2 separate regions of the Homo sapiens genome follow, and region 2 is linked to region 1. Evidence: fine-mapped expression QTL. Tissue or cell type: monocytes after R848. Region 1 holds a variant in brackets; the other region holds the start of a gene. All regions are shown on one strand. Distances are between the middles of the regions.

The links.
Region 2: it holds the start of ERV3-1, and the variant in region 1 is fine-mapped to the expression of ERV3-1 in monocytes after R848 (Quach 2016, PIP 0.92).

What each region holds. Positions count from the first base shown.
Region 1 is chr7:64,966,285-64,969,293 of GRCh38, reverse strand. No RefSeq gene overlaps it. Among named protein-coding and RNA genes, the nearest start is that of ZNF117, 23 kb to the left of the region's middle. RefSeq lists enhancers at 94-837, 838-1,581. The variant A/C (reference allele first, on the strand shown) is at 1,687.
Region 2 is chr7:65,004,986-65,007,739 of GRCh38, reverse strand. ERV3-1 (endogenous retrovirus group 3 member 1, envelope) reads left to right here and starts at 1,053. Exons shown (of 2, transcript NM_001007253.4): 1 at 1,053-1,199. ERV3-1-ZNF117 (ERV3-1-ZNF117 readthrough) reads left to right here and starts at 994. Exons shown (of 4, transcript NM_001348050.2): 1 at 994-1,199. RefSeq lists a silencer at 793-962 and an enhancer at 1,063-1,122.

The DNA.
Region 1 (3,009 bases):
TTGAATAACATTCAACACTTGAATAACATTTAAGCAGAGAACAAAATCAAGAACAGAGCTCTATTTAAAATAGCCACAAACAAAAAATAATATACCTAGGAATGGATTGACTCAAGGAGGTAAAATATCTTTAGAAGGAGAACTACAGTCTACTTTTTAAAAACTGTAATTCTCTCTCCCTCTCCCTCTCCCCACGGTCTCCCTCTCCCCACGGCCTCCCTCTCCCTCTCTTTCCACGGTCTCCCTCTGATGCCGAGCCAAAGCTGGACTGTACTGCTGCCATCTCGGCTCACTGCAACCTCCCTGCCTGACTCTCCTGCCTCAGCCTGCCGAGTGCCTGCGATTGCAGGCGCGCACTGCCACACCTGACTGGTTTTCGTATTTTTTTGGTGGAGACAGGGTTTCGCTGTGTTGGCCGGGCTGGTCTCCAGCTCCAAACCGCGAGTGATCCGCCAGCCTCGGCCTCCCAAGGTGCCAGGATGGCAGACGGAGTCGCGTTCACTCAGTGCTCAATGGTGACCAGGCTGGAGTGCAGTGGCGTGATCTCGGCTCGCTACAACCTCCACCTCCCAGCTGCCTGCCTTGGCCCCCCAAAGTGCCAAGATTGCAGCCTCTGCCCGGCCGCCACCCCGTCTGGGAAGTGAGGAGCGTCTCTGCCTGGCCGCCCATCGTCTGGGATGTGAGGAGCCTCTCTGCCTGGCTGCCCAGTCTGGAAAGTGAGGAGCGTCTCTGCCCGGCCGCCATCCCATCTAGGAAGTGAGGAGCGTCTCTGCCAGGCCGCCCATCGTCTGAGATGTGGGGAGCGCCTCTGCCCTGCTGCCCCGTGTGGGATGTGAGGAGCGTCTCTGCCCGGCCGCCCCATCTGAGAAGTGAGGAGACCCTCTGCCTGGCAACCGCCCCGTCTGAGAAGTGAGGAGCCCCTCCGCCCGGCAGCCACTCCGTCTGGGAAGTGAGGAGCGTCTCCGCCCGGCAGCCACCCCGTCTGGGAGGGAGGTGGGGGTCAGCCCCCCGCCCGGCCAGCCGTCCCATCCGGGAGGGAGGTGGGGGGGGTCATCCCCCCGCCCGGCCAGCCGCCCGTCCGGGAGGGAGGTGGGGGGGTCAGCCCCCCGCCTGGCCAGCCGCCCCGTCCAGGAGGTGAGGTGGGGGGGTCAGCCCCCGCCCGGCCAGCCGCCCCGTCCGGGAGGTGAGGGGCGCCTCTGCCCGGATGCCCCTACTGGGAAGTGAGGAGCCCCTCTGCCCGGCCAGCCACCCCGTCCGGGAGGGAGGTGGGGAGGTCAGCCCCCCGCCCGGCCAGCCGCCCCGTCCGGGAGGGAGGTGGGGGGGTCAGCCCCCCGCCCAGCCAGACGCCCCGTCCGGGAGGTGAGGGGCGCCTCTGCCCAGCCGCCCCTACTGGGAAGAGAGGAGCCCCTCTGCCCAGCCAGCCGCCCCGTCCGGGAAGGAGGTGGGGGGGTCAGCCCCCCGCCCGGCCAGCCGCCCTGTCCGGGAGGGAGGTGGGGGGGTCAGCCCCCCGCCCAGCCAGACGCCCCGTCCGGGAGGTGAGGGGCGCCTCTGCCCAGCCGCCCCTACTGGGAAGAGAGGAGCCCCTCTGCCCGGCCAGCCGCCCCGTCCGGGAAGGAGGTGGGGGGGGGGTCAGCCCCCACCCGGCCAGCCGCCCCATCCAGGAGGGAGGCGGGGAGGTCAGCCCCC[A/C]GCCCGGTCAGCCGCCCCGTCCGGGAGGGAGGCAGGGGGGTCAGCCCCCCGCCCGGCCAGGCGCCCCGTCCCGTCCGGGAGGTGAGGGGCGCCTCTGCCCGGCCGCCCCTACTGGGAAGTGAGGAGCCCCTCTGCCTGGCCACCACCCTGTCTGGGAGGTGTACTCAACAGCTCATTGAGAACGGGCCATGATGACAATGGTGGTTTTGTGGAATAGAAAGGGGGGAAAGGTGGGGAAAAGATTGAGAAATCGGATGGTTGCCGTGTCTGTGTAGAAAGAGGTAGACATGGGAGACTTTTCATTTTGTTCTGTACTAAGAAAAATTCTTCTGCCTTGGGATCCTGTTGATCTGTGACCTTACCCCCAACCCTGTGCTCTCTGAAACATGTGCTGTGTCCACTCAGGGTTGAATGGATTAAGGGTGGTGCAAGATGTGCTTTGTTAAACAGATGTTTGAAGGCAGCATGCTCGTTAAGAGTCATCACCACTCCCTAATCTCAAGTACCCAGGGACACAAACACTGCGGAAGGCCGCAGGGTCCTCTGCCTAGGAAAACCAGAGACCTTTGTTCACTTATCTGCTGACCTTCCCTCCACTATTGTCCTATGACCCTGCCAAATCCCCCTCTGCGAGAAACACCCAAGAATGATCAATAAAAAAAAAAAAAAAAAAAAAAGAACTACAAAACACTGCTGAAAGATATCAGGGACAACACATACAAATGGAAAACATTCCATGCTCATAGATTTGAAGAATCAATATAATTAAAATGTCCATGATGCCTAAAGCAACTTGTAAATTAAATGCTCTTTCTATCAAACTATCAATGCAATTTTTTGTAGAATTAAAAACAATGGTTTTAAATTCATATTGAATAAAAGAGCCCAAATAGCCAAGGCATCTTTAAACAAAATGAATAAACCTGGAAGCCTCACTTTACCTGACTTCAAACTGTACTACAAGTGGCAGTAACCAATATAGCATGGTTCTCGGACAAAAATAAACATGTAGACCAATGGAACAGAAGAGAGAGACTTGAAATAAAGCTACACTCCTACAACCAACTTATTTTTGACAAAGTCAACAGAAATAAAGGGGAAATAACTTTCCATCTGATAAATGGTACTGATAAATAATGGACTATATGGTTAGTCACATGCAGAAGAAAAAAACAACTCTTACCTCTCAGCATATAAAAAATGTAACTCAAGATAGATTAAAAACTGAACATGAAGTTTCAAGCTATGAAAATCCTATATGAACACCTAGAAAGTACTCTTGTGGACACTGGCCTCTGAAAACAATTTGAGACTAACACCTTA
Region 2 (2,754 bases), 39 kb before region 1:
CTCAGCCTCCCAAGTAGCTGGAATTACAGGTGCACGCCACCAGGCCCAGCTAATTTTTGTATTTTTATAGAGACAGGGTTTCACCATGTTGGCCAGGCTGGTCTTGAACTCCTGACCTCAGGTGATCCGCCCACCTCAGCCTCCCAAAGTGCTGAGATTACAGGCGTGAGCCACCGTACCCAGCCCATGGCTAATTTTTAAACTTTTTTGTAGAGATGGAGTCTCACTATGTTGCCCAGGCTGGTCTCAAGCTCCTGGCTTCAAGCAGTCCTCCCACCTCAGCCTCCCAAAGTGCTGGGATTACAGGCATGAGCCACCATGCCCAGCCGCAGAAGGGCAATTATTACACAGTGACAGTGGAAGGAACAGAGACACAGTCGGTGGATGGTGGGAAGATAAGAACATTCACTCTGAGGGCTTCTAGTAACGTTGGAGAAGTGAGCATCAGCTTAGCAGAAGGGAGGGAGGGAAGGAAGCACAGGAGGTTTGAGGAGAGAGAGAGAGGAAGTATGAAATCAGAGCTGCACTTCAATGTGGTGGCTATTGGCCATGTGTGGCTACAGGATAGCTGGAATATGGCTGGTCTGAACTGCGATGTGCTAGAAAGGTAAAATACAGGGTTAGATTTAAAGATTTAGTTCCAAGAATATATACACTACATTAATAATTACATATTGCTCCTATACTAAAATAATATTTTGGATATATTGGGTTATTAAATGGTTAGAATGAATTTCACCTGTTTCTTCTTTCTTCTTAACTACTAGAAAATTTAGAATTCACACATGGCTCACATTTTATTTCAGACGGTTGCCTTACAAGGCAAATGCCGTCTGGGGAGGGCCTGGGTCAGCTCAGGGAGGAAGCTCTGCCTGAAAAGGCTTAGGGTTCACTCTACATTCAGCCCAGCATCTGAGCACGTCTTCTGTCAATCAAGGCCTGAGAGGGTGGGGCCCTAAACATTATCCAATCAGGGACGCTGGGCTGGGACCCGTCCAATCAGGCACTCAGCTGGAGCAGACAGGACGGCTTCCGGGTTTGGTGGGGCCTTTGTCTCTGGCGGCAGCCGGAGCTTCTGGTGTAGTCTTCACTGCTCTGTGTCTTCTGCTCCTAGAGGCCCAGCTTCTGTGGCCTCGTTACCTGCAGGTATTGGGAGATCCACAGCTAAGACGCCAGGACCCACTGGAAGCCTAGAAATGGTGAGAGTGCCGGGTCCGACATCCCGAGAGAGGGGGCGGGGCTGGTTGGAACTGGTGGGAAGTGGCTGTGGCGGGACTCTGGCCTCCCCGCAGCTGGCTCCAAAATCCGCGGCCCCGAGTTCTCCTTGGCGCAGCTCGGCCCTCAGTCCCCTTCAGCCATAGGATGGCGGCCGGGCTGACAGCTCGGACCCCGGGCATCCTGTCTCCTCCCTGCGCAGTGACTGTGCCTTGTTCTGGAGTCCTCTGTGGGCAGCTCTGCCCCCACTGCCGCAGCTCTCCCCGATTGTGCAGGGACCACTGGACGGTCGTCAGGGGAGAATACTGACTCAGGATGCAGAGTTCATGAATGGGAAGAGCTTTGGTCTGCGGGGTTCCCAGTCCCCCTTTTTTTCTATTAAAAATTTGTGGAAGTCTCCGCAGAAATATTAAAGAATTTAATTAAAGAGTAATTCAAGAATTGTAGAGCACCAAGCTATGTTTTGTAGTTTGTGGTTTATGGAAGGGGCTTGAAGAAAACACTTTTATAAAGTGCATGATAAAGGAAAGCAAATTCAATAATTGGTTAGGTAAAGTTATGTAGTTTCTTAATTTGTACGATCAAGGTGGAAATTCCCTGGTCATGTAATGAGAGGTTAATTGGCAGTTTATAGTTGGTTAAGCCTGAATTTTATTTTCCCCCAATGTAATACTTTAGAAAAAAATCATTCGAGTTAGATTTTTTTGCAAGTAGCAACCCTAGGACTGGAGCCACCTCAGTCTAATTGCCTGCCACTTAATTATTTTCACACTCCACAGGGCACTGATTTTCCTCTGCATTTTTCACTTCTGTCTCAAGCAGGGTCTCAAGACTTCTCCCCATTTCCCATTCCTCCAGCCTAACTCTGGCTTGCAGTAAAATACTAAATTTCCAGTTCCTTCTGACATTCCCAAATGCCAATTTCCCCTCCCTAATTCACATTATCAACTATTTGTCCTTTAATGTACACTTTAGTGTACATTTTAGGTACCATATTTTAATTAATCATTTTTTGACAAAGCATTGGCTGGCATTTTAAAAAAGATTTGTTTTCTGTTTGTAAAGATTTCCCAAGAGAAGAAAGCAAAGAATAATCCCCTGACACTGTATTGTAAAAAATGTTCTGTGCCTCCTTTCCTTTTATTGCCTCTAGCCACAGAAACCTTATCAGAATATTTTTGGGTCAGGGTTTCCCTTTGGAAACTTTATAAGGTAATGTGTCCTCAGCCACCCTTCAGTTTTTTCCCTGGTTCTGGGTTTCAGTACTGTCTGGGGATAAATCAAGATATCCACTGTGGCTGTGTATGCTACAATGTCTAGTAAATTTCAGCTCCTGGCCTGGAATGAAACTTCGCATATCTGGGAATGGGAGACAGGACAGCCTGAAGTTGGAGTGTAGCCTCTCAAGGGAGCAGGTGGATGCCCTGAGGCTGAGAGGAGTCTCCTGGGGTACTCTTCCTTTGAAAAGCAAACCCTTAGAGAAGTTAAGATTGTCTTCAAGCAACCCGGGTTCCATTTCTCGAAGACACATTGCTGGTC